Regions from separate parts of the Homo sapiens genome. Here all the other regions are linked to region 3. The links come from fine-mapping of genetic effects on gene expression. A gene starts in region 3. Each other region holds a variant in brackets. All regions are shown on one strand. Distances are between the middles of the regions.

Evidence for each region.
Region 1: its variant is fine-mapped to the expression of PRKCE in whole blood (TOPMed, PIP 0.98).
Region 2: its variant is fine-mapped to the expression of PRKCE in spleen (GTEx, PIP above 0.99).

Annotation. Positions count from the first base shown.
Region 1 is chr2:45,840,723-45,848,904 of GRCh38, reverse strand. It overlaps PRKCE (protein kinase C epsilon), which reads right to left. Exons shown (of 15, transcript NM_005400.3): 2 at 5,842-5,905. Among named protein-coding and RNA genes, the nearest start is that of PRKCE-AS1, 170 kb to the right of the region's middle. RefSeq lists a silencer at 8,014-8,133. The variant T/A (reference allele first, on the strand shown) is at 4,441.
Region 2 is chr2:45,897,390-45,905,571 of GRCh38, reverse strand. All of the region lies in intron 2 of PRKCE (protein kinase C epsilon), which reads right to left. Among named protein-coding and RNA genes, the nearest start is that of PRKCE-AS1, 230 kb to the right of the region's middle. RefSeq lists an enhancer at 909-978. The variant C/A (reference allele first, on the strand shown) is at 4,253.
Region 3 is chr2:45,647,903-45,656,084 of GRCh38, reverse strand. PRKCE (protein kinase C epsilon) reads right to left here and starts at 4,410. Exons shown (of 15, transcript NM_005400.3): 1 at 3,637-4,410. The coding sequence starts at 3,984. It overlaps LOC102724965 (a long non-coding RNA gene), which reads left to right and starts at 4,870. Exons shown (of 2, transcript XR_005647119.2): 1 at 4,870-6,120; 2 at 6,702-7,358. RefSeq lists enhancers at 3,732-4,352, 4,841-5,135 and silencers at 4,511-4,980, 5,151-5,250, 5,881-5,980.

The DNA.
Region 1 (8,182 bases), 190 kb before region 3:
AACCCAAGCCTTGCCTCTTTCTTGAAGTTTTCCTGGGTTATTCTGGTCCCGACTTATTCCTACTTGGAGAACTCTTGGTAACACCTAATCAAACACACAATGCTTTGCATTGTTCTCTAATGCTTTCATCCTGCAAGTCTAGGGTGCCTAATTGAATTGCAAGCTCCTTGAAGGCAAAGGGGTTTTACACTTCTTGTGAATGCCATCTCCCATTTTCTACTTCCTTCTCCACTCTCCATTCCCCAAACCCAGCACAGACACAAAGCTGGGCACATTTGTTGAAATGCACTGGTAGCCTGGATGCAGTGACTCACACCTGTAATCCCAGCACTTTGGGAGGCCGAGGTGGGTGGGTCACATGAAGTCAGGAGTTCGAGACCAGCCTGGCCAACATGGCAAAACCCTGTCTCTACTAAAAATACAAAAATTAACCAGGCATGGTGGTGCATGCCTGTAGTCCCAGCTACTCAGGAGGCTGAGGCAGGATAATCACTTGAACCCAGGAGGCAAAGGTTGCAGTAAGCCGAGATCCTGCTGCCACACTCCAGCCTGGGCGACAGAGCAAGACTCCGTCTCAAAAAAAGAAAAAAAAAATGAATTGCTAACTATTGGTCATTTGAATGAATGGTTCTTTTTAATTTTCTACTAACTAGAAGACATTGGATTATTAACGTAGAATTTAGAAGAAAAGAGGTAAAATTCTTATGAATTGAAGCTCCAGTGGGGCTTGAATCTGAGAGAACCCGTCGATATGTATCCTGCCCACTGGCTAAGACAGAGTTTCAAGAGAAAAACCCCTTTCACTTTGATTTCAGCCCTGGAGGTACTGCTCTAATGCCTGCTATGGACTCAGAGTCTTCACATACAAAACTAACATCTCTAGCAAGGAGGGCAGGTCAGTAGGAAGAATTATTAACCTGCTGGGATTTGAGTCAGGTCTAGTTTCAGACCAAGACTTAGCCATGGATCCACATTACAGACAACCTGAGAAGGATCCAACCTTGAGCTCGGACCAAAAGAGCTTTTATTTCTAACACAGTGGAAAAGGGATCTGCTTATTTATGAAGGAGACTCTGGTCACCTTTGGATTCAAAGCTAAGAACTTTGGCTTTATATTTCTATAAAAAGCTTTCTGAAGAAGAGAACTAAAATAAAAAGATCGAACCAGGGGTGGAGTGGGGAATCACTGCCATGTGGCAAACTCATTACTGGGGCCATGAATGGAAGCAGGACCTGGATTGTGGCCTGGGGTCTGGACCCAGCAGGGTCTCATAATCAACCTTTTGGCCTGGAGCACATCATCTGACCTCTCAATTTCACCATCTCCCACATGGAGGTAATACTGCTGGGCACTTGGTAAAGCTAAGAGCTCTACACACATGTTATTATTTCAGAACCAAGCGAAGCTGGTTTGATCACGTCTGCCTGTGCAACTTGAAAAAAGTCCAGAAGAGGTTGCAAAGTTGAGTTAAGATTTCTAAAATATCCCTTCTGAAAGGTTAAGGGATTTGATTGATTCAGCCTGAAAAAAGAGATATTGAAAAACTGTCTTCAAATATTTAAAGGCCTTTTACCCAAGGGCTGGTGAGAGGATGGGGACCACATGCTATGGTCCACACTAAGCAGGGATGGGACAAGCCCAGGCTCTGACAAGGAGAAGCCTCTAGCATTAAGGGCCACGGAATGCAAATGAGTGGCTCAGGGATGCTAGAGAATGTCCTTCCAGGAATTACTTTACTTGGGAGAGGATAAGGAATAAATGGAGTGACAATAGGCAAAACTGAGGCAAGGCCTGAACTGTGCAGAAAGCAATCGCACAGTCCCTGCCAGATAGATTACTCTGTTAAGTCGCCTCTTTGGTACCTGGCTCTGTTCTTGGCCCTTGTGAACATGTCCCACCCCAGCGTCAGAAACCTGTCCTTGAACAGTTTCCCTGAATAGCCTGCCAGATGCTTCTTCAAGGGCACTGGGTAGAGCTATGCCAACCTCTCTGCCCTCAGGTCTCCAAGGCTTCATGATATTTACTGATCATCTCTTACATGCGAGGGCACTGTACCAAAGCACTGTTCTTATGACAATCCTGGCCTAGCACCTACCATAGGAACCATTATCCCTGTGTTGTGGGTGAGAAATCTGAGGCTCTAAGCTACTAAACACTAGAGCCAGGATTTCAATCCAGGTCTGAAGGACTCCTAAGGCTGTGCTCTTTCTCCTCTATCTGTTGAGTCCCACAGAGAAGACTGACCCCTTTCAGCCTGTGGCTGCAGAAAGAAACAGGGTGCCTCCTGTTCCCTGCTCTTCTGCTTCCACAATATGCAATCCCTCCAGAACTTGACTTATCTGCATCATTTGTGAGGTACGTGTTGCAAAAATCATTCCTATTCCTTTGTATCCTCTGTATTTTGTTGGAGAAACAGTTTGGTGATCCAAACATACCAATGGGCCTACTTGTTATTGCTGTTGTTGGTTTAGATGCTGAAGAACTCTCCCAGGTGAGCATGACACCTAGGTGCAAGGCATGGGAAGAAGAACCTATCAGTCCCCAGGTCAGGCGCCGACCGTCTCTCATCGGTAAGCCTGTGAATCATGGGGCATTGCCACATTATTAGAAAGAATAAGAAATAATATGCAAATTACATCATATGAAGGGAAGAAATACTAACAAATGGGCACAGCAGGAAACCATCATTTGCACAGGTGAGAATTACATTGCTGTTTATGCCTCTGTTACCTGGGCTAATTGTGCTTTGATTTAAGCATCTGGAGAGCCTGGAGAGCCACCCTTACCAGAACCCCCTGTGATTATTACTTACGATGCAAGTAAAACATGGACTGAGACTGGAGCTTCCCATAAGAGCATTTTGAGCAGGTTTGCTACTTGGTATAATGTAGGTAAAGTGCCTAGCACCATACCTAGCACCAAACGAGTCCATTTCTTGCAACTCCTTTTTTCTGTACATATTAGCCAGCCCTCAGCCACGAGCTCTGACAGATGTCTATTCAAATTGTACCAAAGGATAAAATCACATGGCCGGAAATGACCTTAACTGTCATCTAGCCTGACCCCCTTACATCTGGGGTTAGGATGGCTGGTTTAGCCAAAACACACACTGGCCAGATTCCACTATAGTGAACTGCACAGGACATGCAAGCAGTGGAATTTTATTAGACAGTTAGAAATCACATTAGCTCCAGCTCCAGCAGACGTAAACGCCCAGGCTTTCTAACAGCATATGAGCAAGAAAAAGAATCCTTCGGCGCATCCTAGAAGAAGGGGGTGTAGTCACACCATCTCACCCCCACACCTCTCTCTGAGCTCCTTGGAATTTGCATGTGTTGTAAACTTTGTGCAATTCCCATGAATGTATTTTTTTCCATTGATGGGGCTGCAGCATTTGAGAGATGGGAGCTGAAGGGATGCTTGATGGCAGAATAATGGAGTGGTGAAACTTCAGCTGTGCCTCATTTCAACTCTCTCCCTTTCACAGAATGCAGAGTTAGGTATTTTCACTAAAAAAAAAAAAAAAAATACTTAGTCCACAGTCTGTAAATCCAGGAGGGTGGTTGTGACAACTTGCTTCACCCCAGACCCATCTCACGTGGTTTAGGTATGAAATGTTGTGGTTTCTCATTCTCTAGGGCCTCCCCTTGCCCTCTCAACTCTTCCAAAACCCCCTCCAGGCTAGGAACCCTCACAGTCCCAGCAACAGGACTGGGAGAACAGATGTGTATAACACAAACAACAAGAGCAGCTTCTCAGAACGGATTATTGAAAGTCCTACCCACCATCGAAAGAAAGGATCCCAAGTCCAAGAACAGCAATTTAAAAAAAAAAAAAAAAAAGTAGAAAAATGTCTTCTTTTCTTCAGAGCAACACATGCTAGCACTTTTCAGACTCTGGCATGTGTCAGCATTTCTAAAGTAAACTCTATTTTCTTTAGATGAAAGAGATTTAAAAAATAGACTCAGAATTTAGCCCAGTGAAAATTGCTTTGGCTATTCACATGCAATAAGCTGTAGAAGCAAGCAGAAAAAAATCAATTGCTTCTGATTTATTTATTCATTCATTTGTCCATCTCCTTTCCCTCTAATGTAAAAAAGGATGTCTTCTATAATTTTGCAAGTCATTTATCTTTTCAAAGAAAGAGAAAATAGTCCCAGCCTCCCATTGGTTGCTCAGCATCTTGGCACAGGAAATACATATTTAATTAATTATCATATTGCACACAGATTATGTAAGGAAAAAAGGGGATTGATTTTGCCCATCAAATGTTTCGCCAGTGTCTAGAATCAGGAGGCCACACTGCAAAACCTTAAGTCAAGTCTGGTGAATTTGGATCACTTTCTATGTTAAAAGCAAGGACAAGGCTTCACCTCACTGCTTGCTCTAATTCTTAATTGGGGCGGTGGGCACACTGGTGCTCATTTAATTTGTCTTTA[T/A]GCCCTTTTGTAGGTCTTAAATATTTCATGTGAAATATTGTTAAATCCTCAAATCTTCTACAACAGGTTCTATTCTGGGCAGTTCAGAGCTGAGAGCAGAGAAGGGAAGTTGGAAATGCCAAAATGTAATTGCAATAAAGAGCAGGAAATGTAAGCAACCAATTTTGGAAGGCTGTTTAAAGTTTTAAACCTATGCCAAATAATTGGGATCTATTAAAAGAGGGCCTAATTCTATTATAATCCCCATATACACACAATTATTGAATTCTTCCGAATACCTGTTGAGATTGGGTGATAAATTAGCTGAATGGAAATCATCAGGCACCACTGTCAAGCACATCATTTGACTAACTGAATATGTAATCCTTCCTTCTATCACTGAGCCTTAAACTAGAGACTGTGTGTGGGATTGTGACTTTGAGCTTGTGATCCCCAGTATTCTGGGGAGATGTTGTGAAAGGCCCAAGTGTTCCAGGCAGGAGAGCTGAGAGAGCTGAGTGTCCATTTTTCCTTTTGGGACACAGTCCCCAAACACTGTTTGTTTCTCACTGCCAAGAGGAACTACACATGGTCTTCCAATATCCCTGCCATGGCATTAAAGCCAACTGTTCTGTCCCCCTGCCCACAGATGGAGGAGTAGGAGAGAAAAGAAGGCCACAATAACTACATTTCAGTCCGAATTCCAAATCTTTCTTAGAGCTTAAGTTGGTTGTTATCTCCTTGTTCCTGTTTGGATAAGGTTTTATTTTCTAGGCTTCCCTTCTTCCCTTGACTGCTCAGTCCTCAACACCCAGCAAACCCTTCAAAGGTCTTAAGTGTAGTTAAGTGAGCAAAGAAAGGATTGAAAGAAGAGGGTGTAAGAGGAAGAGGGTGTAATACGCCATCTAATCAGTCAGTGGGGAGCAGATGTTCCCTCACCCCATTATTTCTCTTTAAGAGCAGAGCTTTTGTCTGTGTAAAGAACTGGTAAAAGAAGTCCCACTTCTATCAAAGCTCTAAAGAAGATTCTGAAGTTTGTCACCTTATTCGTTTCATTTCTGGATGCCGTTAGACCAACTGGTTTTACTTCCTTCCCACCACACACACACAAACCCCACGCAAGCCTCCTGGGAGAGGCTGCCCTGCCACTGAAGCCTGCCTTGCACACAGCGTGCAAAAACGCCCGTTTTATTGGCCTCACTTGGTAAGTCCAAAATCTTCCCTCTGCTCCACCAAAGTTAACAGATGGCTGGTCCCTTTTGGTACACAGGCGTAAGCATCTTCAAAATAACCTTTTCCTTTAAAGGATGCCAATTAATTAAATGTCACTATAATGTGTTCCGGCCAAGGGGGGGAAAGAAGAGACCCAGAAGGCAAAGGGCCAATGGAAGAAAACAGGGATGAGAAGTCACGCTCTCCTACCTTCACCCGACGACCCTGAGAGATCGATGATCACATACACTCTTCCTTCTGGCTCCAGATCAATCTGCAATTAAGAAAATGACAGTGACTCTGTTAGTGCATTGTGTGGGCAACCTAAGAGTTCCACAACATTTCTACCCCAAACTGCTAAAACCTAGAGACACAGCTCCATGTAATTCACCAACCTACAATGTGTTGAGTGCTAGGTGAGATGCAGACCTGGGAGGACTGATGCATACCCCATAGGTAGCACCATCCCAGTGGTTCTCAACTGGGGGCAATTTTGCTACACAGGGGATGCTTGGCAAACATCTGGAGGCAGTTTTGCCATGATTGGAGAGAGAGAGAGTGCTGCTTCTGGCAGCTAGTGGGTGGAGGCCAGAGATACCATTAAACATTCTACAGTGCACAGGATGACCCCTCGCAACAAAGAATCATTCAGCCCCAAATGTCATCAATGATGTTGAGGTTGAGAAAGCCCTATGTTATCCCATTTTACAGATATGGAAATTGTGCCCAAATTCCAAGGTAAGTGGTAATGCTGAGATTCAATGCCAAGCCTGTCTTGAGAAACCCATGTTCTTTATACCACAGAAACTGCTCCCAGGGGAAATAAGAGAAGCAGGAAGACACTACTCCTGCTTTTATGGCGTTTATCATCTCATTGTGGAGTTAAAAAATGGGGAACAATGCTGAATCCAGCTTAATGATGAAGGACAGAGAAGAACTGATAAAGTATCTGACGAACCTGAAATCAGTGTAGAAGACGGAAGGGAAGAGGGAAGGGAAGGTATGCAAGGCGTAAGAAACAGCACAGGCACCCTCACTTCCTCCCTCCCCACCTCAAATCCAGCTAACTACTTATAATATACAGAGACAAGGTGGTGAAATAATTGGGTGAGACAAAAGCCAGAGGGCTGGGCCTCTTGTAGTTAAAGACATCTTTGCAAGGACTGAACTATCCTTACAGAAACTGTGTTCTCTCTATAAGAGAGTAGTAACTCTGGAAACCCTGGATCACCAAGTCCCCCTGCTAGCCTCTCCGCCTCCACAATCCCATCTGTCTACACAGAGCTTTCATTGGTTCATAGTGCCAGGCTCTCTCCCCAACAAGCTGTGAATATCTTGAGGGCAGGAACCACTATCCCCCTCCTTTTCCTTTTTCACTGTCCCCAGCAAAGAGCAGGCAAGCATTTAGCAAGAATTACTTCAGAACAGTCAGTCTAGTGGATATCTCCTCCTCCTTCAAAGTCAAGGTCAATTATCACCTCCTCTCTGAAATCTATCCAGATATGCCCAGTCAGAATTAATTAGCCCCTCATCTGTGTTCCCACAATACACCAGACACATCTTACTCATGGCTCCTGCGATGGTTAATATTGAGTGTCAACTTGATTGGACTGAAGGATGCAAAGCATTGTTACTGGGTGTGTCTGTGAGGGTGCTGCCAAAGGAGATTAATATTTGAGCCAGTGGACTGGGAGAGGCAGATCCATTCTCAATCTGGGTGGGCACCATCTAATCAGCTGCCAGCGTGGCTAGAATAAAGCAGGCAGAAGAAGTTTGAAAGACTAGGCTTGCTGAGTTTTCCAGCCTTCATCTTTCTCTTGTGCTGGATGCTTTTTGCCCTCAAACATCAGACCCCAAGTTTTTCAGCTTTTGGACTCTTGGACTTACACCAGTGGTTTGCCAGGGGCTCTTGGGCCTTCAGCCACATACTGAAGGCTGCCCTGTCGGCTTTCCTACTTTTCAGGTTTTCGGACACGGACTGGCTTCCTTGCTCCTCAGCGTGCAGACGGCCTATTGTGGGACTTCACCTTGTGATCGTGTGAGTCAATTCTCCTAATAAACTCCCCTTCATATATACATATATCCTATTGATTCTGTCCCTCTAGAGAACACTGACTAATACAGCTCCTATTAAGTTGTAATACATTGTCCATCTACCTCTCTGTCCTGATAGACAGAAAGTATGATAACCAGATTTGCATCCCTAGTTCGTAGCTCACTGTCTCTTAGGAAACACCCAGCACACACTCGTGGAGGTGGGAAAAGGCTCTGTGTTCAGAACTTCCAGAGTCTATTCTGGGAACATTCACCCTCCCAAGGCTCTGTCCCCAGGAAGGAAGGCAGGCATGTCATCTCTACTAAAATGACATTTGAAAAAGGGTAGAGGAAAGATGAGGCAGCTATACCATGAGCACCACATGTCCCCATGAGACAAAGCGACCAGCTGGAATGGTGTTCTCCAAACTCTCCCAACGTCTCACCCCACACACAATCCAGGAGGCTCCCAGAGTCACTCCTGACCCCATCTTGTTGCCTGACTCAGCCTCTAATG
Region 2 (8,182 bases), 250 kb before region 3:
CCCAGCTTTTAGGAAAGCTCACAGGGCTCCAATGTGCTTAAGCTGTGTTTTACCAGATGGCAGGGTGTTTTTTACCTGATTATTAAAGCCATAGTCTACTATGGCCCATCAACAGCCAATTTGGCCTCAGCAAAATAGATTTCAGCTCTCTCAGCACTAGTCTCCTAGCAATCAGCTCATCAATATGTATAATGTTTAGAAGCTGGATATTGATTGTGGAATCTAATGGACTCATTCAGGGTTCACCTTGACCTCTGAGTTACTTTTTTTTTGGAGCTTCCCTGTTTTCCCACTACCAGATTCCAAAACTGGGTTAGCGTGGGCTATGTTGGAGAGCCAGCCAAGAGGTTCCTGAGGCTTGGCCATAAGTCAAGGATGCTCTTGAGCCAGGGTTTGCCCTAGCCAGTGTGAGATGGCCTGGACTACGGCCTGCCCCAGCATTACTCTGAATTAACAAGGAGCTGCTGTTGCCATAGGATACAGCAAGCACCAGTGGTGTGATTAACACCGTAGCATCCAGTGAGTCCTGTGTGTCACCGTGCCTGCTGAAGTGATGTGGAGCCCCTGTCGCTGTCTGTACAATGGTCAACAAAGGCTACCAGCTCTCCATGGTCCACGCCCGGGACCTCACACGTGGACCCCCAGCTCCCCAGGTTCCCCTGACTCCTCCCCCAGGGCTCACCAACACATTCACAGCACATAGGCTCACCCAGCCCCCCTCTCATGGGTCCCTGCCATCAGGAGAATGTCCCATGCAGGGCTGGAGAAAAGGCAGGCTTCTGGGGCAGCGGGGAGACAGCAAGAGTCTTGGGAAAGAGGAGCGCATCTGGGACAGGTGGCCCAGGCAACCGGGGGAGACGGTTTCCAGAAAGGGATTAGTTTGATTCTTTTTCTTCCTGGTGAGATCCCCGAGCACAGCCCACTTACAGTAAGCCCTGGCCAGTTAGTAATCATCAACGCACATGGAGCTAAGACATTTCGCTTCTTGGCAGGGGAAGAAATGCCCAGAGCCCAACCCACCGAGCACGCCTCTGCCTTCTCAAAAGGCTCATCTCATCCAGAGCCAGCACAGAGACATGACTTTTTAAACCATTGTTTCATTTTCACATGTGATATAAGTCTGTGTTCTCCATTACAAATACCAAAAGTGAGAGGTGGTACTGTTAAGAAACCTCATCTTCTCCCCCTGTGATTTGCCCTGGATGGGCACGTGCCACCCCCATAGTGTTCAGCACAGGCAGGGAACTTGGAGTTCTTTTGGTTTCAAGACTTCTCGGTTCGCACGCAACCGGCTTCTTTCTAAGAAACTGTTTTGTCTGTTTGTTTGCATTTTTAAGAGAATCTAAAAAGCTGAAAAGCTTTTTTAGTAACATTTTGGATCTTGCACTTGATTTAATCCCAGCATATTGGGAGGCCGAGGAGGGCAGATCACTTGAGATCAAGAGTTCGAGACCAGCCTGGCCAACATAGCAAAACCCTGTCTCTACTAAAAATACAAAAATTACCTGGGTGTGGTAGTGCGTGCCTGTAATCCCAGCTACTCCAAAGGGTGAGGCACGAGAATCGCTTGAACTCAGCAATGGGAGGTTGCAGTGAGCAGGGATCATGCCACTGCACTCCAGCCTGGGCAACAGAGTGAGACCCTGCCAAAAAAAACAAACAAACAAACAAACAAACAAACAAAAAAAAACTGCCAGGCTACAAGCTCTCATATACAAATGCTCCCAAACTGAGGGGGATATGATGAAAGTGATGAGGTGGGAAGAGGGTTTGAGGATGTATTAACCCATTTCCAAGAAGGAAGACCTGGGCTCTCTAAAACTTGGAATCATTCCTCACTGCCTTGCCTTGTACATTCTACATCACTTTCTGGTCTGTGTGTCTAGGCTTCCCTGAACATCTTACATGGGGTTACCAGACAGGAGATAAAAATACAAGATGACTGTTTAAGTTTCAATTCCAGAAAAAATAATTCTTTATAACTATGTGACATGCAATATTTGGAACATAGTTATACCAAAATATTATACAGAGTTGATCTGAAGTTCAAATTTAACGGTGTCCTGTATCTTACCTGCAACCCTAATCTTGCTGGGTCTTTCGGCCTCATCTTCCCTCACAGCCCCAGCTGCTGCAACCCTGTCCCATGGGGATGGTGACGCCATACCATTGACACAAAATCCTTCCCTGTATCTCAAGTGAAGAAAAGGGGATGCTCTGTCTATGGAGTAGCCATAATATTCACAAAATTAGTATTTTTTAAAGCCTGTGTTATGTGCCTGTTAATGTATGGAGGAATAACTTCTGAACCAAGATGGCCTGAGGGTATTTCTTGCCAGGCAGGGATCCCTTGGAGGACTCCTCATTCACTGACTTATTTAATGAAGTCCCTCTGACTTCCTTCCAATCAACTCCCTCGGGCACTGAGACCACTGAAAACATGACTATTGATAGTGATTCACACTAAAACACATACTGAAGTGAAATCATTTAGACTAGCATTTCCTCAACTCAATTATATTATTTGGAACTAAACTATATTCACGTAGGATCCTCCTGGGGGGAAAATACATAATTCCACAATCAAATAAGCAGGAAGTTGTATGCTATATATGCCCATCTGGGAAAGTCACTGTACATCAGCATACAAAGGCCTGAGTAGTCTTGCAGTCCAGAAACTCCCAGTGCTCACTCAAGCACTATCCAAACTTATTTGGCCACAGAGCCCACTGAACTCCAGTTCCCTTCTAATAGCTATTAACCCTACAGAGAACACTTTGGATATCAGAAATGTAAATATTTTTGAAACATAACTAACCCTTGAGTTACTGTTTCTTTCTAGCCCCTACTTTAGGTCTGGGGGCTGGGTTCTTCAGAAGTCTTCCTAGCCAAGCTCCCAGACCAGTGTAGTCACAGTCTTTCTTGAAGACCTTACCCAAGTTCCAGCTCCAAGAACTTCCCTGACCCTCCTGGCCTCTCCTGCCCACTCCAGCCAGTTCCTCATTTCTGACTTTTCCCCAGCACAGCTTTTCACACATCCCATGTCCTCAGGATGTTAATCCAAATATCCTGATTTGACTTTTGCTAGTATTTTCTGATTACTTCATTTCTATCTTAGCTCCTCAGGCAGACTTGGAGCTACCTGTGGGCAATATCCTCCTGTTGGATCACAGCCCCTTAGTTCAAGATGGGCTGGGCATTGGCAGGCTGGGCATTGGCAGGCTTTTGGTAAGAGCTTATAGGCAGAATTCTGTTTACTGTATGTATTACACTCATGTTCCAATTACTGCAGGTTTCAGGAACAATGGATGTTTTCTAAGAGAGCCGTGAGCTGGCTTCTCTCATGCACTACGAGAGATGAGAGATGAATCCCAAAGTCGCCTTCTGGGCCCATATTGCTACACCTCCTAATCATCACCATGGCTGGGCAAACACTCCAATTCAAACCCAAGTGGGAGTGGGAAAGACCTGAGAGGGTTGGAGATTTTTATGAGGGTGAAATAATTTCCTAGTTTGTAAGTCAAAATTCCCAAGGACTGTGGGATCTACAACCTAGAAATTCAGATGATTTCAGTTCTTCTGTCCTGGAAAATACCACTTCACTATCCTAAGGCAAAGATGGCCATGTACTCTTATAAAAAGTTATTGCAAAATGACCTGCTCTTAAACTCTGAAGTCACCATACTCTTTTACCGCACCTGGCTGGACTTCAGGGTTTTACAGACATCGTGTGTGAGCTTCATCACAAACCAAGGCCAGCACGGTACAGACTTCCAAGAATTCAACTGCATTTCCATATTCTTCAGGGAACTTTAATCTTCTACCCCAAGACTGAGTTAAAAAGAAAAATCTGAGCAACAACAGGAGAGTCTCTAAGATACATAATGGGAAATGTAAACACATTGTACGAATCAGCTGTGCACACACTTCATCGTCCCAGCAGCATATTTCTTTCCATCTCAGGTGAATTATAAAAAAATCCTTCAAACTTTACACTCACAGCTTTAAATAGCCTTAGTTTCCAAGGTGAAATAGACTGATCTTCTAAATGACAAGTTAAAAATCTATCAGCCATACGTTGATTTTTGTAAATCGGTTCTTTTCTAAAAGGCACAAGTCTTTCCAAGAAGGCCCAGGGCAAACTTTATTGGATCTAGTTCCTAAAAATATTACATGAGAAATATGTGAACAGGCTAATACCTTACCTAGATGAAAACATGACCAGGTCGGAGCGTTTGGCCTTGGGTAAGAA[C/A]CATTTTAACATTCTGAAACACTAATGCCTTGCTTGTCCCCATCTCAATCCTCAAGCAACCGATTAGGAGTACTCAACACAGACGGTTTTGTAAGCACAATTTGTACTAAGTTCTGGATTTTGTAGCAATTTTTCTGCATCTCAAATCTCAATGAGATTTCCAGTAAAATGGATTCCAAACATCTATATACATAGTAGAGTTTATGATATCAAATCATTTCTGCTCATCAGGACTCAGCCCAAATGTCAATTCATCAGAATCTTTCCCTAGCCAACCCAGCGAAAGCATCTCCATCCCACATATGTGAGGCATGGTTCTGTACCATGTTAATTACCCAGTTTCTTTCCCAAAGTCCTTACAGTACCTGTATTGCCTTACTCATTTGTTAAGTGTGTATTGTTCATCTCTCCTCAGCAGAAAGCAATCTAGTTCTCCTTGCAGTCAGGCCTTCTGTCTGGTTCAATCCTGTATCCCAAAATCATATGCCTGGCAGCATAAATTTAGGAATCAATTACATTTAAAAAGATTTTTACAGTGGTAAATTACACAAACGTGGTTAAAATGGTAAATTTTAAGTATATAATTCATTAGTATTAAGTACATTCACACTGTTGTGAAACCATTACCACCATCCATCTCCAGAACATTTTCATCTTCCCAAACTGAAAATCTCTACCATTGAACAATAGTCCTCTATTCTCTCCTCCCTCTAGCCCATGGCAACCACCATCCTACTTTCTACCTCTATGAACTTGACTATTCTAGGACCTCATGTAAGTGGAATCATAGAATATGTGTGCTTTTGTGACTGGCTTATTTTACATAGCATAATGTTTTCAAAGTTTGTCCATGGCGTAGCATGTATCAGAATTCCCCTCCTTTTGGGGGTGAATAATATTCCACTGCATGTATAGACCACATTTTGTTTATCCATTCATCTACTGATGGACATTCGAGTTGTTTCCACCTTTTGGCTATTGTGAATAATGCTGTTATAAACACTGGTGTATAAATATCCATCTGATCAGTTCCTGCTTCCAGTTCTTTGGGATGTATACCTAGTGTTGGAATTGCTGGATCATATGGTAATTCAATTTTCTGAGAAAATGTCATGCCGTTTTCCACAGGGGCTGCACCACATTACATGTGCACTAGCAACAAACAACAGTTTCCATTTCCCCACATCTTCATCAACGCTTGTTATTTTCTGGGTTTTTTCCAACTGCATTTTATCCGAAGCAACCGTTCCCACTTAAATCTGTTATAGATTAGCTGATCTAGTAAGACACTGAACTGACTTGGTTTACTGTGCAATATATAGTCAGAGGTCACAAGCAGCTAAGTAAAAGTAACTTATCTTTCATAGTTGAGCCCGGGCTAGTAGAAGAAAGATTTATTTCTGGATATTTAGAGCCCCTTCATGCTAGAAATATAACCAAGAAATGAAAAGAGACACAATTGCCGCATGGCTTTCTCCCCAGGTGGTGTCAGGCTTTTCTCCACACTGCCCTGGTCAACAGCAAGTGGAACTTCAGGCAGGAATGCTCTGCACAGCACTACCTACAGGCCCAGCCACTTCTGAGAGAGAATTCAGGGCCTTCGGGAACTATGGTGTTGGCCATTAAAACTTGGAAGGGGCTAGGCACAGTAGCTCATGCCTGTAATCTCAGCACTTTGGGAGGCCGAAGCAGGCAGATTGCATGAGCCCAGGAGTTCAAGACCAGCCTGGGCAACATGGCAAAGCCCCGTCTCTACAAAAAAATACAAAAATTAGCCAGACATGGTGGGGCTCACCTGTGGTCCCAGTCACTTGGGAGGCTGAGGTGGGGAGATCATCTGAGCCTAGGGAGATTGAGGCTGCAGTGAGCCATGATTGTGCCACTGCACTCTAGCCTGGGCAACAGAGTGAGACTCTATCTACAAAAAAAAAAAAAGAAAAAAAATTTTTTAAAAAGACTTGGAAGGAAGGAGGAGTGGCAATTATAATCATCTGAATGCAATGGCCTGGCTTTATCTTTGCCCAACACTGAAGAAGCCTATAAATATCAAAAGGGGGAAAAAGTTTAATTTCCAAAGACAAAGTTTTCAGACCTATGTGACCTCTGAGAGAATAAGGCCATCTGAGAAAACATTTCCTGAAGGTCAAATCCAGGCTTAGGGAATGAGGCCACCAGCCAAAGCTCAGTCTCCTTTCACTCAAAACGGCTGCAGTCTTCCTGTCCTGCGGGACTTGGATTCTAAAGAGAAGGCGCTATGGCCTATTGGACAGTCTCCCCAGCCTCTAGCACAGGGCTTGGCACAAAGCCAGGAATGAACATGTAAGTCCTGAAACAATGAGTTGGGTGTATGGCCTAGCTAAGAAGATTGGGGGCTGCTTTCTTTTTGGGACATTCCACCCTGACTGATGCCTTTTTCATGGACCAGGCCTTAGAGTTCTGGCAGACCCAAGACAGGGGTCCTTCACAGAAGTCCCTGTGATCATCATGGCATGGCCTCATGCGAGTTCAGCCAAGGCAGGCCTTCTCCACTCCCTCCTCAGAGCCACCCTAGGAAATCCTGATCTGGTTACAATAGTATTCAAATCCCTCTCTCTACTCCTCTATTTCTATGTCCCACCCCTCTCCATCTCCCACACTGGTACTCTCTTCCCACAGTAACAGTAGTGGTAATGATAGTAACAGCCAGCTTCATGTTTTATATAGTGCTTTCAATTGCACTGGTTTATTAGATCCTCAGCATAACCAGATAGGAAAGCCCAGGGGACATCTGACTTACTCAGAGTCCTCAAGCAATGTGTGGTGGGACCAAGCTTCCAGACTCCAGCGACCCAGTCCTCTCTGAGTAGCTTTCTGTTCCTTAAGTGTTATCCAAGTATCTCCTAGTGTGAAAGTCAAATGCCCTACCCTTTGCTGCTGCTCTCTGTTACCCACTGAGAAGACAGACAGCTTCCAGCAGGTAGATCCTAATCACACTAACATGCTCAGACTGAACATAATTTCATGTGTTTGTGGCTGTTTTAAACTATGCCCACAAATTCTCTCTTACTCCTCCCTTCAGAGGTGAAGCTTAACTCCCCTCCCTCCTAGTGTGGGCTGGACTTAATAACTCGCCTCTAATGAATAAATAAGGTGAAGCGATGAGTTGTGATTTTAGAGACTAGGTCATAAAAGCCACGTGGCTTCATCTTTGCTTTTTGTTTTTGGGAATTAGACTATTACCAGTCATCTCTATCACGAGGGGCCTGCAAAAGGGAACCACGCCTGTGCCTGGTGTGCACTTGCCCAACTGCGTCCTTATTGACTGAGATGAAACTGCTGGGCAAGAAGAGGTATATACTTCTGAAATGACTATCATAGAGATCGCCCAAATCACACCAGAGGTTGGGCAAATCAGTATCCTACCAGCAGTTTATCCGGGTGTCTCATCATGCCCTTGTCAGCAGTGATTATTAAAAGCCACTTCTTAACTCAAATAATTTAATTTCTTGTGATGGAGTTTCAGGAAGAACCATGGAAAGATATGTGAGTGGCTAAGAAAACATTTCCTCTCAAATCATAAACCATATTGCTGTTTTCTCCATCTCAGTACCCCCCACACTGACCTTGACTCCTCTTACTTCAGCTGGGCTGCAACCAAGGCAGGAAACAAATAATCTCTGTCATGAAAGCCACTGAAATGTAGCCATAAAAAATGGGGTGCCATCTCCTCTTGCACCTCTAAACATCTGGCAATTATCATGGGCAAAGTGCCTTTTACCCCACTAAAGATACTCAATTGCATTCTGTTCTGTAACACTAACTATTCTTTCATCCATTTGACCTACATAAACTTTCTTCAAATTTTAAAAATAAAAACAAAAAATAAAGATGATGTATGTCTATTAGCACAAAACAAGATGGGCAACCTGACCAAAAAAGGGGCCCTGATTT
Region 3 (8,182 bases):
TGCCCACTCCTTTCTGACAGGTACACTCAGTTTCTGTCCTGCTCATCCATTCTCCAACCCTGACTACAGGATTGTCTGCCTTTATTCCTGCGGTGGCCATGCCAGGAACACTGCTCCTTCTTGTAGATACCTCTTTAAATATAACCTACTGTTTCACACTCAGCTCATGCCTCCTTCCAAAAACCCTCCTGGATTCTTCCAGTTCTCCCTACCTTTTTTTTTTTTTTTTTTTTTTTTTCAAGAGACAGGGTATCACTCTGTCACCCAGGCTGGAATGCCGTGGCCTGATGGTCAGATCATAGCACACTGCAGCCTTGAACTCCTGGACTCAAGTAATCCTCCCACTTTGGCCTCCTGAGTAGCTGGGACTACAGGCACACACCACACCGCAGGTCCAGATTTGGCTAATTTTTAAGTTTCTTGTAGTTATGGAGTCTTACTACGTTGCCTAGGCTGATCTTGAACTTCTGGACTCAAACGGTCCTCCCAGCTCAGCCTCCCAAGTAGTTGGGATTGCAGGCATGAGCCACAGTGCCTAGCCCACACTCCCTTTTTAAACTCTTAACACACTAATGGTACCACCTGTGTGGAACCTAATTGCTAGTTAAGTGTCTACATCAGGGTGTCCAACTTTTAGGCTTCCCTGGGCCACATCGGAAGAAGAATTGTCTTGGGCCACACATAAAATACACTAACACCAATGATAGCTGATAAGCTAAAAAAAAAAAAAATGCAAAAAAACTTATAACGTTTTAGGAAAGTGTACAAATTTGTGTTGGGCTGCATTCAAAGCCATCCCGGGCCACATGTGGCTAACAGGCCATGGGTTAGACAAGCTTGATGTATATGTGGGTACTTGGTGTCAATTCCTTGGTGAAATGGAAGCCCCTTGAGAGTAACCCAGGGCCTCATTTTCCTCTGGATGGCCCACAGTGAGAAGCTTCCCTGGTTAGACATGAGCACAAAACAGGAACTCCAGGAATACAAGTGAATTCAAAGTGCGGCAGAATTCGGTGTTCCGCAAAAATGAGAGAAACGGCTGCTTTATGCTATCCACATCCCCTTACTTCAGGCCAGATCTCTCAGCCACACCTGAGAAGGGTGTGTTTCTTCATTCCTGCCAGGTAAGGAGTGAAGAGACCTGAGCCCAGGGAATTCTACCCAAAGCTATGAAACCATGGGTTTACCCTGAATGTTAAGACTGGGAAAGGTGAACTTAGCCCAGCTGCAACTTGTCTCCATTTCCAGGGGCCAGTCACCCCTGCCAATGAGTCCCCACCTTCAGCCTGGAGGAACCAGAGTGGCTACAGCATCCTCTGGTGAAAACAGATGGGCATTCTGAACCTGCTCCACTGCTTGACTCATCCTTCAGACTTTGGGCTTCTCTATCTCAAGTTTTTTAGTTTGTCCAATACCTGCCATACCTAATTCACAGTTGCTATAAGGCAAAAGAGATGAAGTTATCAAGTACAATAAAAATGTCAGGGACACAGCACATGGATCTGCAGGGAGAATAGGCTGGGAGGCCAGATGGGCAGGCTCGGCTCCCCATCAGACAAGCCATGGGCAACAGGCGGTGAGGGCCCTACTTCCAACCCACCTTTGCTTGTCATGTGACCCTCGGTCCCCAACTAGCTTCTCTGGAACTCAATGTCCTCATCTGTAAAACTTGCCTGTGCACTAGATGATCTGGCCTAGGGCCAAATCCAACATGAATTTGAGAACCTTAGAGGATGATAACCAAACAAGTTCCCACTGCATGCTTCACTAGGAGGGATGAAGGTGGGGACAGTGTCCTGAAGCTCCCAGAGTTTGGGGTGTGCCCCAGTGAAGCATCACCAGAGATACAAAGACACTCTCCCTCCAACCAACATCTGTTCTATGGATAAATGCAGACCTGCTGCTCCTCATCCCTGCTCTCTGCCCCACTGTCCAAGCCCCTCATCTGCATACACTGCAAAAGGCTCCCATCTCCTAGCTACCAGCGTCAAGTTTTTTCCACCCCCTTCCTGTCCAAAAACAACAACTCCAAAATCACAGGTTTTCAGAGTCAAGGTCTACCTCTGAAATTAGTTATCCCTTCCACTCCCCCTCTCATATGCACTGCATTCATGAGGAAAGGGCCCAAAGGCCATGCATGGAAAAGAAATGGGGAATGAGTGGGAGCTCTGTTGTGGGGGCTGAAGGAAGCAGAGATGAGGGACATCTGTGAAGTAGAATAGAATGGCATGGAGTTCTCTGGGATTCCATAAAGGTTTGCCTGCTTTCCAAAGTGCAAACCACAAATCTAGAGTTCTACGCATGTGGCTTGTTGGAGCTTCCCTGTGAAACCGTAACCATGGTTTCAGGCAGACTACATCACAGCCATGAGCACAAAAACAACAGGCTCTCTCTTATTTTTCCCTAAAACTCCGTGTCCTTGAAAAAAATATGTAAGGTGATATGCCAAAGTGATCCATGTGCAACCTCTGACCTCTAGGACATTCATGAAGTTAGCTGGTTTTCAATAGAAAGCAATTGCTCTACACCACTTTTGAGGCTTAGATAGCTCTCTCACTTTTTGTGTAGACCAAAGAACCCTGAAAACATATACCTCCAGAGGAACGCTTGTACTTGCTGGAAACATGTAACAAACCTGAAAACACAAAAATCCACATCCTAAATTAATACCTTCCTTCCAAGAAGAGAGAAAAAAAAAAAAAAAAAAAAAAAAACAACCCAAAAACAAACACAAAAAGCAAAATGAAGGTTTGCTTCTCTCTGCTTGTCCAAGTGCCAAGACTGGATGCATTTGGTTTATAGTAGATTGAGACAAGACCTCTTTCCAAATCCTTAATAGTTTAATAATGGAATCAATTAACAACTCAATCTCATACTTAGAAATCGTCTTTTATTGCACAGTATCTTGACAATCAAAACAGAGAAACAATATAACTTTAAATAAGATTCAAAGCACTGACTTCCAATTACCCACAAGCAGAACCCTTCTTAAAATGCAACATTCATTCTGCATGGATGGGCAATGAATTGGACAAAACAAGCTCGACTGATGTTTCTGGGACCATAGAGGAGACATCCTGGAGGAGAACACATTTTTTCTACTTGTATGTCAGAAGATGAGCTAACCACCATGCAAGAGAATAGAAACAAGCCAGCTTCCTCTCGGAGGGAAAAATAAAGCAACTCCTCGCTCGGCTAAGCAGGACAAAGCCAGGACGTGCAAGAAGCCTTCAGTCAAAGGCTCCACGTGCCTTTCCAAGGACGGAGGGACCCACCCACACACAATCACACACAGCCAGCCCACCACGCGCCTGCGGAAGAAAGCCGGGTCCTCGGCCAACCTTCAGCACCAGTGGCCCAGGCTCTCCCAGTTTGCAAACCTCCCGCAGCACCCACCAACTGGAGGGCACAGAGGGAGCAGAGGGCCACATCCTCTTTCCAAGTCTCATCTTCCTCGCCAATGCCTGTTTCTCCCCAACTATGAAGTGAAGTGTACCTCCCCAAGGAAACTGAGACTTACAGGCACACACACCCCAGTCGTCAATAAGTCCCGGAGCCCTACGATCAAGACCAGCGAGTCTTTCCCCGGGACCCCACAACCGGGTTCCCGGAATGACGGGGAGGCGCCGCACTCACCCAGTCCTCGAAGTGGCGGCTCCCGTTCTGCAGCAGCTCCTCAAACTGGATGGTGCAGTTGGCCACGAAGTCGTCGTAGCCTATGGGGGCATCGTGAAAGACAGCCAGCTCGATCTTGCGTCCGTTGCACACATCGGTGACGAACTCGTCGTGCCAGGCCGGGCTGTTGGTCTTCTGCTTGGTGGCCGTTTGGCCGATGCGCGAGTCGTCCACATTGAGGGCAATGTAGGGGTCGAGAAGGAAAGTCTGCGGCCGGGGTCCCACCGCATGGCGCAGCGACCAGGCTGTGGGCTTCAAGCTCACGGCCTCGCAGATTTTGATCTTAAGAAGGCCATTGAACACTACCATGGTCGGGGCGGGGAGTGGGGGCCGGGGTCACTCCGTCTGCCCCGAGGGCAGGAATGAAGAACCGACGGCCCGGCACTCCGAGCCACAGGGACTCTTGGGTCCCCTTTCGCCCCACCCCGCACACTCCCTACACCTTGTGGCGTTGCGCCCTGGCGCGGGCGATTCTCAGCCAGTGCATGTATTTCCTCGCCGGGTTCCTAACGGAAAACAGGGAGGGGGGAGAGCTGGGGGATGTCCGTGTTTGGAGCAAGTCTCTCCCCCCGACCACCAGCTGCACCTCCAGAAGAGAAGACGAGCTGTCGGCTCCGCTGCAAGCCGCGGGGGCTGCCTCGCCGCCTCGCTGGCTCTCCGGCTCCGGACTGCGGGAAAGCGGGCGCCGCGCCCGGCGCTTACCTACCTTTCCGAAACATAATCCCGGGAAATTTCGACTCCGGGAGGGGGATGGGGCGGTGGGACGGGGCGGGGACGAGAACCGGGGGCGCAGATTTCAACCCGGATCCTCTTCGCACACTCAGCGCCTGCCTCTGACCGCGCGGGGCGGGGGGGTGAACGGAGGGATGTTCAGTCTATCCGGAGGGATGCATGTCGAGAGGAAATGGTCCTCCTCGGAGCCAAATTTTTAAAAATCCACAAGCCCCACGGCCAGCCGGGGCCGCCGCCTCCTGGGCGAAGCAGCGCCGCGCCGGAGCCGGCGATCGGGAGGCGCCAGGAGCCCGGAATCTCACATCCGCGCGGGCTCGGAGTCCGGGCGGCCGCCGATCCGGCTCGGGGGCGCAGGCCAGCACCGGGCGGTGCGCAGCGCGGCGGCGGGGCAGGGACTGCGACTCAGCGCGGCCCCACCTCCTGGGCGCCGGCGCCCGCCCTCCGCGCTCCCCGCGTCCCCGCTCTCGGCTGCCGCTCGCTCGCCGCCCGCCAGCCCGCGCTCCCCCGCGGTCTCCTCTCCCTCTGTCGGTGTGCGAGCGAGTCTCCCTCCCTCTAATGCAGGAAATGCGCAAAAGACGTCAGTGTGTGTGAGTGTGTGTGTGTGAGTGTGTGTGTGTGCACGCGCGCGCGCGCACGGCAGTGTTTGGGGAAATAGAAAGTTTTGCCGGTTGGGGGAGCAATACGGAAAAAGTGAGCCGAGGAGACAACGGTGGAGAGCTGGCGAGGCTGCCCGGGGTCGCAGCGGCGGGCGGGTCAGCCGGGGGGCGGGGACCCCGCGCGGGACCCCGGGGTGCGGCGGCGCTGGGCTGGATGCGCGTGCCGGGGGCCGTGGATGGCCATGGATGGGCCCCGCCGGGCCGCGTATCTCTCGGGGACCCTGCGGCCAACACTGTCTTTTAGAGCCGGGGATGGGGGAGTGGAGGGGGCCCTGTTGCCCTAGAGGCCTCGGGACCCTTCCCTTGCCCACCCCCACTCGGGCCGCGGCGGGCAGGAGCAGTCTGCGGAGTTCTGGCCCATCTGTCACTCTGTCCCGGGACGCTGTGATCCACGGCGGTGGGGGAGGGGGAAGGGGGAGGGACAAGCATGGCTCGGGTGAAGTTTTAAACTCTGTTCTTCTCTCTTGCCTTTCTTTGGGGACATTCTCCCCTTTGGGATCTGTCCTGGACTTCGCAGGCTGCGAGAACTTGTTGACAAGTGAAAGCTCGGTAGAGCCCCGGCTTGGTTTGTGGTCTGCTTATTTTTTGCAAAGTGACTGTTCCTGTTTGCGCTGGTCCTTATCGGTGCCCCTTTGGGGGACTTCGGCACTGATCAGCGCGCTGACAGCCGCCGTCCGGGCTGCGGGAAAATGGGGCGCGCCCTCCGGGGGGCGAGTGGCTGTGTCCTTGCTAATTTCCTCCGTAACCTTTAAACTCTCGCTGGAAGCTACCGCCGCGGCTGGTCACGTGAGGAGAGCCCTGGGCTGCTGGGGAAAAATTTCCTCGGCTGGGAGCCGGGACCGGGCCGGCGGCCGGCGAGGGACTGCCCCGCGCCCGAGACTGGGAACCTGGGAGGGCAGGGCCGGAGCGCTGGGCCCCGGGGCGCGGCCCAGCTGGGACACCCGCGAAGACGGCGGCGGTGAAGAGGTCGGCTCCGCTGCCGGGGAGCTGGGGATTATGCAAATGGGGAAAGAAAACCTCCGCCCTCGCCCTTCTGCCAAGTCAAGTCTGGGAATTTGTAGGTATTGTGGTAAGCTGAGTGTTCATCTGGCGGGTCTGGTTAGTGTAAACCAAAATTTAAAACGCGCCTCCCGATCACTTTTTCCTCAGTGGGTAAAGGTTATCATTGCCTGCGGCTTAAAAGCCTAAAAAGGCTTAAAGGCGAGGAAGGAGGCAGTCCCCTGGAAAAACAGGATATCAAGTGCAGCAAACACGTCCCAAAAATGATCCGAAAAGTTCTAGGGCCATCTCCTAAGAACAGGCAAAGCCTTTGCCTGCAACCGCTCTGGAGCTTCCTAATACAGTAATTTCTCGCAGCCTGCCCTGTTGAACAGGGCAGCTGGGTAGAGATGGTGCTAAGATTCAGTCTTCCGTATGATCTAGGTAGCTCCGATGTAAAAAGCCAGGATTTCAATGGTTGTCTTACCCTGTCACTCCCCCAGCTGGAGATACGATATCTTAAAATATGTCCGTTTGACAAAGCACAAGCAGGGGTATCTCATTGCTGTTTAATTTTTATTTCTTTGATTATTACTTTTTTCCCTTTTGCTTCTTCCTTCCACTCTGCTATTCTCATGAAGCCTCTTTCCCCCTTTCCAGGGCATGTGATGGAAGGCAGTGGCAAATATGGCTTGATCTTCTGAAAATGCATTTGGGAAGCAGAGCCAGCACCAAAGTGAGATGAGTGAGATACTTTTCAGAGGCAAAATGTAAAGGGTACCAATAAACGTAATCAAGATAAAGATTTAATACAATTTTTTAAAAATAAAAATGTGAGAATCCAGAATGGACACAATATCCACATTTTAAATAATTTTAAATATTGCACTAAAATATTTATACTACTGAGTTTATTGGCACCTGTTAAATTTTGTACCTGAGCCGAGTGCGTCACTCATCTCACCCTAGTCCTGATCCTGTTGGGAAGTCTGGAAAGTCAAGGATTTCATGGAGTTAGGGATCCTTGACTAATTGGTGCTTCATATGTTCTCATTACTTGCTTTGGGTAAGTCTTGTACAGGCAGGAGCCACCATGCCCAGCCCCCAAATATATTAAATAGGGTCTGTTACCATCTCAGTGACTGTCTTAAAACAACCTACAAACTTCCAGCACCATTTCCTAGCATGCTGGCTCAGCAGACTGTTACTCCGTGTAAATCACCAGACTGCAATTCTCAAGGGCGACCAATGCTTGTCTCCTTTCCATTACAGCAACTCTTTTGGAGCAAGGGTAATAAAAGACTTTGTCAAACAAAATACATGTTTTGTATTGGATTAATGTTTACATAAAAAGGGAGAATGCTGGTAGTCTGCATGCAAACACTGCTAGTTTCCTGCCCTTATTACCTCCTTATTTCTAAATAAATCTCTCGCCTTCCTACTCTCAAACTTGGCCAAATGAAAAGTTGAATTCCCCAGGGACATCATGGAGATGCCAGGTCCAAAATAACCCCCTGCTCCAGGTTTCATGTGAAAAGAAAATCCCAAGGAGGGGGCTTAGACGGTAAAATTCCAATAGGAAATTATTGCCAGCTTCATCCTTCCCTCAGCCCCTGTCTCCAATCCCAAAGGATAAGACAGTGGTTAGCATATACATTGAGTAAAATGACCTTTGGATTCCAACTATGGCCTAGTTATTTCATAATCTTTGTGAGAAGGAAGAAAATGATACAATAATTTAACAAAGATGACCAAAATGGAGCCTTTCTCCTTTCAAAATTAAGGCTTATGAGAAAAGAATAGAACAACAGATGTGGCCAGGACAGGGCGATCAGTGTTGCAATAGGTCTATGGATGGGAGTGGCACAGAAGAAGGATCACCCCTTTGCCTGGGGAGCCTGGGAAGGCATCAACCAGCAGAATCCTTTGAGCTGAGTCTAGGCTTTCCAACAGGAGTTCTTCCAGCAGCAAAGAGGGAAGGGAAGGGTACTGGCTGCAAAAAGTATAATGTGTACAGGTAGGAAAGCCATGACTCTTCAGGTAAGCGGCCAGGTGTGCCCCACTTGTGGCAGGTAGTAACAGGAGATGAAGTAAGTAGGAACCTGATAGTTAAGACCTCAGAGGGCCTGCAGATGGGTCTC